Homo sapiens: one gene and its partner. The protein of the gene in region 1 interacts with the protein of each later gene in a biochemical or structural test. Each region holds a gene or a part of one and is shown on either strand. Other genes may lie near its edges.

What was found.
Region 2: the proteins of CYLD (region 1) and TASL interact in a test that uses a peptide from one of them, tested with the Homo sapiens proteins (one large-scale study listed by IntAct).

The regions. Positions count from the first base shown.
Region 1 is NC_000016.10:50,772,695-50,777,259, reverse strand, and holds part of CYLD (ubiquitin carboxyl-terminal hydrolase CYLD), read right to left. Parts: intron 2,095-4,565; coding exon 2,086-2,094; intron 1,082-2,085; coding exon 983-1,081; intron 1-982. UniProt on the Homo sapiens protein: Deubiquitinase that specifically cleaves 'Lys-63'- and linear 'Met-1'-linked polyubiquitin chains and is involved in NF-kappa-B activation and TNF-alpha-induced necroptosis.
Region 2 is NC_000023.11:30,574,320-30,579,487, forward strand, and holds the start of TASL (TLR adapter interacting with SLC15A4 on the lysosome), read right to left. Parts: upstream 3,448-5,168; 5' UTR 3,319-3,447; intron 2,548-3,318; 5' UTR 2,433-2,547; intron 1-2,432. UniProt on the Homo sapiens protein: Innate immune adapter that mediates the recruitment and activation of IRF5 downstream of endolysosomal toll-like receptors TLR7, TLR8 and TLR9.

The sequences.
Region 1 (4,565 bases):
TGCCACAGCCATTTCATGACATTACCCTGCCTCAGTATTAATTCAAGGACATACCACACACAGTGGAGGGCAGTGGGCTCTCCAGAACCCACAAAAAAGCTGATTTCCCTTTTCAAATTAAAGCAGGTAGCTGTACATTTTATAACTTTAAGATCTACTACAATACAATTAACATGCCATAGCTTAAGAAAATCTTTAGTCTGTTTCTATTTAAGTGAGAGTAGCAAGTTTGAGCTATCCTATATAGATCTATAGGTTAACATAAAAAAGACTGTTACCTATATATCCTGCAATTAATCCTAAGTCTCCCAGGCCCCAATGTCACATAAAATAATTCTTAAAGTACAATTTCCTTTTAAATGAGCCAAAATTGTAATAATTGAGGAAAAAATATTCTTTTCCTAACTCGCATCTGAGTTAACAAAAATTCTCAGAGCCTTTTTAATGAGCTCTTTGGCTTGTATAACTACTATTCTATAAATCTATGAAGTATGTGGAAGCTAACAAAAAAAAGAGCTGTAAGCTCCACACATATTGTGAGGAAGCTTCTGGGAAAGAGAAGAAATTTTTGCTTAGCAGTTTGGGATTTAATTTGTACCAAATCTAGTTAGCAAAATCCATTTAATTAACCTCTAGTATACTTTATCCTATATAACATTATCCATATAGGATTATTTTACACAGTTGCAATCCTAAACTATACATACAAATATTCCAAGTAAGGAGTTCCAAAAACCATTTGATTATAGACCAGCAAAACACACAAGACCCTATGGGGAACTCTTCCTGAGGTAAAAAAGGCTGGGAACACTTGGCTTAAGCAACAGTATTTATATACAAACTTTAGTTTCACTACTAAAAATGTTTGAAAGAAAAAAAGTCTACATACATGTTCAGAAGTAATAGCTTATAATCTTTTTTAATGCTATGGCAAGTTAGGCATTATGCAAATTACTAAAGGTTATATGCTATTAATCCATACCTGTAGCCTTTGGTTTATTATGACTGGATGAACCTTTGTCCCCAACACCTCTTGACATAAAGGCAAGTTTGGGAGGCCTCCTTTCCTGCGTCACACTCTCTGAAACAGTAAGCATGTTTTTTAAAGATAAAGGCAAATTCTTATAGAAGAGAAACAAGGAATGACAGTAACAAAATAAAAAAACCCTCTTTCCACAAAAAGGCAGAATTTTTAGTTTTACAAATGCCTTTTAAAGGCCATCAAAAGTATTGAAAAAGATAATACTATGGGGGAAAAAACCAATGCTGTATTTCAAAATGTAATTTCTATAAGAAAATACCCTCTCAAAATACAATTCAGCTAAATGCTTTAACCTCTTGAAAATTTAATCACTTGTAGTCAATTTTATTTGATCTCTTAAAACACTACAAAGAAAATCTTACTCGGTTTTTTACAGCATTTCCCAAATCAGCAGGCTTAGAACACCCCTGTGTATTATGAAGTGTTTCGAACTCAAATATTTCTTGAAGATGCTGAGATAAACAAAGATAAACAATTTCTTTACTGCACGGAACCAGAGCCTTTAATATGCTAATGTGCATTGTGAACTGCTCAGGGAGAAACAAAATAAACTTATTGATAAAAATTTTTGTGCCACTTTGCTTAGCATCTCAGATTAATATTATTTCATGAACACAGTTTGAAAAAAGCCTGGTTAGGAATATGTATCATGGTTAGGAAAGAAAGTTCTGGTTAAGAACATATATCTGTTTTTAAAAACATATATGTTAAGAATAACACAGATGTGTATACAAACACTTATACATATAAAAGAGGAAAACATAGAGAATTATGCATAGATTAAAAATACAGAAAGCCAGAGACACACAACAATAATATATTTGAAGAAAACACTCACAATTATTTCTGAAATATAGGTGTAATAAGTGTGGCAAACTTGTTTTGAATACAAAGACCACTCTAGACCTTAAAGCCCAGCAATGATCATAGAATACTCCTAAATACTGATCAAGGGAATGTAGAAGAGGCAGTGTGAAAAGTTCTTCCTTTGAAAAATTCAACAATACATCCGTGGAGTCCAACACGACACTTAGGAGTCATACCTGATAAAGCTGTGTGTCAGCAAAAACGATATCACCCACAGTGGATTTGAGGACAGAAAGAAAGAAATAGGAAAATTTTTACATTTTAAACACAAGGAAAAGACTTTTCTTAAAAAAAGAGGAAATTTACTAAATGAATTATATGTAAATACTTGGTAACTTTTTTCCATGGTTGAAAGAGGAGGGGGATGTGTTATTAAACTATATCTTAAACATCTCATAATATGATCCAATAGAATATGAAAATATTTTAATTCAAAAATTATACCAATTAACCACGATTTCGATCAAGTGATATAATAAGAGAAAAGCTATGTACTAATACTGTGGTCCCCACTTATCCACACTTTTACCTTCCACGGTATCAGTTACCCACAGTCAACCACTGTCCAAAAATATTAAATAAAAAATTGCAGAAACAGACAATTCGTAAGTTTTAAGTTGCATGCTGTTTTGAGTATTATAACGAAATCTTGCACCATCCTAATCCATAACCCCTGACGTAACCCATCCCCGTCCAGCATCTCCACACTGTGTCTACTCCCTGCCTTGTTAGTCACTTAGTAGCCACCTCAGTCATCAGATCAACTATTGCAGTATCACAGTGCTTACATTCAAGTCACCCTTATTTTACTTAATAATAGTCCTGAAGTACACGAGTAGTGATGTTGCCATATTGTTATTATTGTCTCTTCTCTGATTATTGTTTTCAATATCTTATTGTGCCTAATATATAAATTAAACTTTATCAGAGGCATGAATGTAGAGGAAAAACACAGTATACGTAGGGTTCAGTACTATCCATAGTTTCAGGTATCCACTGGGGGTCTTGGAAGTATCCCTTGATGAAAGAGGAGACCACTGTTCTTTTATGATGTTGTCATTCAGATATCTTTAAATAGCACCCATGACAGATACTTCAGAAGGAAAATCTTAGTCACTGAGAAGAGTTCCTAAATTATAGCATATAAATTTCCTAAAGAAAAACAACTCCCACTATTAACTGTAATTAACTGCATATAACATTTTTAAAGTATGTTCACATGTATACCACGATATAGATCCATTATATAGTTAGTAACCATTATAACAAATGAAGCAAGTGCTCTTCCCTTTGTTAGGCTTTGAAGGTAGCCTGGCAGGACTGGAGAGCCAACTGGATGGCCGGTGGTGACAGTTCTGCAGGTGACACTAGGGAGGAGCTCCAAAGATTAGGAATGTGAGCAGGGGGGCACTGGAGTTGGAAACTGTGGCTACCTTCTGTCAAAGGCTGTCTGAGAGGGGGTCAAATATCAGCTCTGAAGAAGAAGACATTCCATCAGAATTCTATACAGACAAAGGGGCACAAACCACCTCTAATTGCCCTCCAGCAATTACACACCAAATATTTCTTATTACTTTGTCACAACTGTGTTCATGGCCCAAAACTACTTGGGTCATGAAGCAAAGCTTTCAAAGTTAAATGAATTATAAGTGATTACCAACTCAGAAAAAGATAAATATGGGATGGAAAGCAAGGTAAGATAAATTCAGCTGGCAATTTTGTGTGATTAAAACAAACCTGATTAAAGATATTAAAAGATATAGAAGATAATTCCACCAAACAGCATGAGTAAAAATGTACAGAGCAGCCCTATTCATTCTAATCAAAAGCTGGAAACAAGCTATTCTACAGAAGAATAGAGAAACAAATTATGGTCTATTCATACAATGGAATACTACATAGCAATAAAAAAGGAACAAACTACTGATAAACAGGGCAACATGGACATTGTGTTCAGCAAAAGAAACCAAACCAAAAGTATCCATTATGTATACACAGCAAGATTGCATTTAAATGATAAAATTCACAGCTTATCCATCACTTGTTGATTTAACCAGAAAAAGAAAAATCCCTTGGAGAATCTTGAGCAGGAAATCATAACAATAAACTAGTGAACAAGTTATTGTTCAAATCAAATGAAATGTCTATGAATTTGAATGACCCAGTAAATTAAGAGAAATTGTTTAATTAATGTACCGCTTAACATCAGCAGCCACAAGAGCATAATTCAGACTCAAATGAGAATTTAACATCCACAGAAATCTTGTGAAGAAAATACAGTTTACTTGAGTAGAATGAGGTATTATTAAACCCGATGCCAGAAATATCCTACATAGCAACTATTCAAAAATCTCTAAAAGGTTGGGTTCCTGCTCAGAATAAATATTTTCCATAATAGTATATGAAAAATTCTTCAAGAAATGCTTGAAGGTGCCATATAGATAACACCAAAAGTTGCATGCTGATATCTGGTGCTTCAAATTATCCTTCTTCAGGGCTCCAGCTCTAACTGTCTCATAGGACCAGGAGTACTGCCTATACAGGCAACATTCATGGTGACTCCGATTGACAAGCAATCTCTATGAAAGCCATGTATTACTGTCTATCAAAATGTAAAATGCATAGCAATTCTACTCCTAGGAAGTTATCTTTTTAT
Region 2 (5,168 bases), on another chromosome or scaffold:
TACCCCAAGGTGTTCATCAGGATTGCATGAAACTTTAATAAAACAGAAAAGATAAATCACTGGAATAGTCTTTGGAAAGAAGGAAAAATTGACACGAGCAAAAGGAAAAAACAAGATTGAGGATTGGTGGGGAGTGTGGGAGTTTTGGATGATGAGGCAAAACAGATCCCGCCCCTTGAAGAACATTTTGGAGGTGTGCAAACTAAGACACCCAAAGAGGCTGGATTGAGATGGACGCAAAAACTATTAGTGGCCACACACAAATGGAGGCAATGGGATGGGACTGCCTTCCACCATCATGGGCTACAACATCTTGGAATTACAGACAGGAAAACATTTGTGATCTTGAGCCTAGCTAGCAGGGGTACAGTTTGGCTTCTACCTGTCAACATGTCTGCTTACAGAGATATAATTTTTAAGAGTTTTGAAATAGTACATCTAAAGACACATCTTATTTTAGTAAATCATTTCTCTTGAGGGGCACTGAGATTAGTCTTGCTTTTCCACTATGTGTAATTATTGCATATGCCTCCGTGAGTATTTCCACAGGCCAGATTTGGAGGAGCAGAATTACCAGATCAAAGCTATTGCCAAATTTCCTTTCAAGTAGCTTGGATCAATTTATTCTCTCACCAGCAATGTTTGAGATTGTTTTCATTGACATTCCTTAGCACATTATTTTTTTTTAATTTTCCAATCAAATGAGCTAATTTATGTTTGTCTCAAATTAGAGAGTCTTGTTAAAATCATATGTAGGTCATGTGTTATTTTTTAATGCCTGCAAAACTCAAAATCCTGTATTTCATCTCTTTACCTCTATATTATATTACCCTATAATATAAATTCTAAATCCCATAATTCCATTGTAAACTTTTTAAGACTTTCTTGGTGTGGGGGACTTGCAGGTAAATTGCTGAAAAGTGATCACTGAAAAACTTGAATATTGTTTTGTTCATGATTTAATTATGATAATGTAACCAAATCTGTATTACATGTTCCAGTTTTTTTTCAGTGAATGATGCTAGACCTTTACCTAAACAAAAAGCTTCTTTAGGAAGGACCTCCCTGTATAAAATAGCATCTGCAGTTTCCTTACTCTTATCTTTAAAAATACCTGTTCCTTAGAGCTGGAAATAATCACTTAATCACATACCTTAGATTATATCCCTATTATTTCAGCTTGTATTGAATTTATTGATGAATGCTCTAAAATATTGCTCATTAATATTTCAATTTCTGTTACAAATCATATAATTTGGGATTATCTATTCTTGTATCAAATATGAAGTGATTCTTAACAAATTAATTTCTGAAAGTATAACTTTATGGCTAAGATAATACAATCATAAATCAAAAGCCCTCTCTTCTTCATATTAATATTACCAAGTAAATAAATAATTTTTTGTTTGGTTCTGCTTAGATTCTTATGACCAAAGTTAATGGCTACTTCCAAGGACGATCTGATGTGTGAATTTTCTTAGTTCAGAAAATGTAAACTTTGGTGCAGAAATATTAGTAAATATATTTTATCATAGTTTGGATTTTTCTTTATACTCCTTCTTGATATAAATTGAAAAATTAAACCTTTTGGATCATTTTTTGAATCACTTTCAATGTATTTTGATGCAAAATGAGAGGACTAAAAAAATAAGAAACCTATCATAATAGTATTGTACTGATATAAATTTCTTTGGTGTTATAATTGTTAATCATTGTTAATCATGTTAATTATGCCAATTTCATTAACATTTACTTAATTGTAGGCATGTCAACTACAAATGCAATGCAAGATTCTTGATTGGATCCTGGATTTAAAACATAAAAAGATTCTAAAGGACATGTGGATAATTAGGAAAATTTGAATGTGTATCACATCTTAGATAATAGTATTGTGTTGATGTTATGTTTCCGTGGTGTTGTAATGTGTTATAGAAGACTGCCTTTATTTTTAGGAGATACATGCTCAAGAATTTAGGGGTGACATGTGTCCTAAAGTCAGCAACATACTTTCAAACCATTCAGGGAAAAAACTGTGCATATGTGCATGCGTGTGTGTGAATATATATATACACATATAGAGAGAGAGAAAAGGACAGGCAGAGACAGAGAAAGACAAAGCGAGAGAGAAAGTAAATGTGGCAAAAAGATACCACTGATTAATACACATGATGAAAATATGGGTGTTCGTTGTACTATTCTTTCAATTTTTATATAGATTTGAAACATTTCTAAATAAAAATTGGGAGGGGGAAAAAACCATATTTAGTTAATGAAGGCATATTTACATTGTATAATGTTTATTAAGAGCCTAGAGGGACAATATCTTATATATCTAAAATAATCACTACATATGAGATGAGAAATGTCTCAGTGACTTGATATAAATACTTCAAACATCATTTTGCTCTGAGATAATAGAATTAGTGTACTACCTTTGAATATCTCCAAAATTCCACTTATGATATGGATGTTTGACACAGACTTCAAATACTCTTCAATCCTCCAGAAGCTTCTCAAGCTCAGAAACAATCTTCTTCTCACACTGACCTATGCAAGAAATGTTATAAAATATCAATATAAATATTCTGTCCAAACCAGGTCTATATTTAAGCACAGATTCATATGCGCAAGACAAAGAATGTTTGAGCGAGTCTAAAGATAATTCAAACAAAACTCCACTCGTACATGCGCTATCTTTAATACCAAAAGGGAAGCTTTCCCCAAATCACCCAGATGAAAGTCGAAAAGCATCCTCACTATAGATCGCATTCATTTTGAATACATCCTGCCACACAGAAAAACACTATCACAAGCTTGCTGAACTGAATAATTGAGAGTCAAATCCAATTGGAAAGGACTGTGATTGTTTTCGTCTCTAAAACTGCATCACCGTAACTGAATTCAAGAGCTGTGTTGTCCCTGCAAAACCCTGCTTAGGTTTTTAGGCCTTCTTTTAAAAATGCAGAAGCTAAACCAGTGTGGCAATTAGTGAAAGAGGACTGCAAAAATAACACAATAAATATTTGCTCAGATCAGTCAAAAATTGTAGGTAAAAATATAAGTGTTTTAGAAATGCTTAGAATGTGGACACGAGGAGGTAAGGAAAGGAAGTATTGGGCTTAATTTCTCTTTATTTTTCAACTCCACTGAATGCTTGTTTAAACTCCCACTTGTCTCTGATATGGTAAGCTAGAAAAGCATTTTAGATGTCATAAGAATGGATCAGCGCTCTCGTGATAAAGGGCTAAGAAAGCGTGAGAAGACAGATGACAAAAAATAATAGCGGAGTTCTAGGGTCCTTTGCTTTCTTTTTCTTACCTTCACTAACCAATCTGCTCATCTGATCCGGCAGAAACACAGCAACTGACCAAACAGAGAGATGAACAAGCCAGCCAATGCTCTTTCCAGAAATTTTCACAAGCCTTTCACTGATGAGACCAGTAGACTGAGCTGCTCAGTGCAAAGCCATTCTTTTTATAATTGGTCCCATGGAAAAAGAGTTGTTTTTGTTCAAGTCCGATTTGTGCTAAAGAGGCAGTGGGAAGTCCCGGGAGGTGGGGAGGCAGTAACTGACAAAGCCACATCAAGCCACAGAATGGTGTTTCTTCCCCTTTTTCGAAAAATGAAACCTATCTACGAAACTGTCTCTTATTAAAATAGTTTATGGTTACACATTTTGTAAGAACCCTAGCAACAGAATTAAATTTCCTTTCTAGAAAAGTACATTATCTGGGATCCTTCACCCAAAAGAAAGCCAAAGTCACATATGACTTTAGGAAATTCTGTTTCGTTACTAATCTATAATTTTTAAGAAGTATTATTTCTCAATGGTACTTATAATTTTTAAAAATGTAAATGAAAAAAATTTTCTCGGCCGGGCGCAGTGGCTCACGCCTGTAATCCCAGCACTTTGGGAGGCCGAGGCAGGTGGATCAGGAGGTCAGGAAATCGAGACCATCCTGGCAAACACGGCGAAACCTCGTCTCTCCTAAAAATACAAAAAATTAGCCGGGCGCGGTGGCGGGCGCCTGTGGTCCCAGCTACTCGGGAGGCTGAGGCAGGAGAATGGCGTGAACCCGGGAAGTGGAGCTTGCAGTGAGCCGAGATCGCGCCACTGCACTCCAGCCTGGGCGACAGGGCGAGACTCCGTCTCAAAAGAAAAAAAAAAGAAAAAAGTTTTCCCTCTCCAAATACCGAAGGTCAAAACAATAATACATGGTGTGGGCAAAGTTGTGAAGAAACAAGCACTCTCAAACACTACTGATGAGATTGTAAACATATTTAGAGGGCAATTTCCCAGTATCTCTCAAATACAAATATTCATACCCTTTGACCCAACAATTGTATTTTTTATAAATTTGTCCAAGCTATATGTTTACACTTGTACACAAAGACTTATGTGAAAAGATATTTGTTGCAGCATTGCTTGAGAAAATAAATGACTAGAAAAAATTATATCCATAAATAAGATATTGGCCAAGTAAATGAGAACGTATGCATACTTAAAATCCTATGTAGGTTGTGTGCGGTGGCTCACGCCTGTAATCCTAGCACTTTGGGAGGCCGAGGCAGGTGGATCACTTGAGGTCAGAAGTTTGAGACCAGCCTGGCCAACATGGTGAAACCTTGTCTCTACTAAAAATACAAAACTTAGCCACGCGTGGTGGTGGGCACCTGTAATCCCAGCTACTCGGAGGCTGAGGCATGAGAATCCCTTGAACCCGAGAGGTGGAGGTCACAGTGAGCTGAGATTGTGCCACTGCACTCCAGCCAGGGTGACAGAGCGAGACTCCATCTCAAAAAAAAAAAAAAAGAAAAAAAAAGATCTCTAACATATATTGTTTAGCAAGAACTCATTTTCCAGTTTGTATTTTTAAGGAATATATGTATATACATGCTTATGTAATAGAATATTTCTTTTTAAAATTTTGTATTTTAATTTTTGTAGGTATACAGTAGGTGTATATATTTATGGGGTACATAAGATGTTTCGATACATGCATATGATGCATAATAATTACATCATGAAAAATGGGGTATCCATCCCCTCAAACATTTATCTTTTGTGTTACAAAAAATCTAATTATACTATTTTAGTTATACTAAAATGTAAAATTAAGTTATTATTCACTACAGTATCCCTGTTGTGCTATTAAATACTTTGTCTT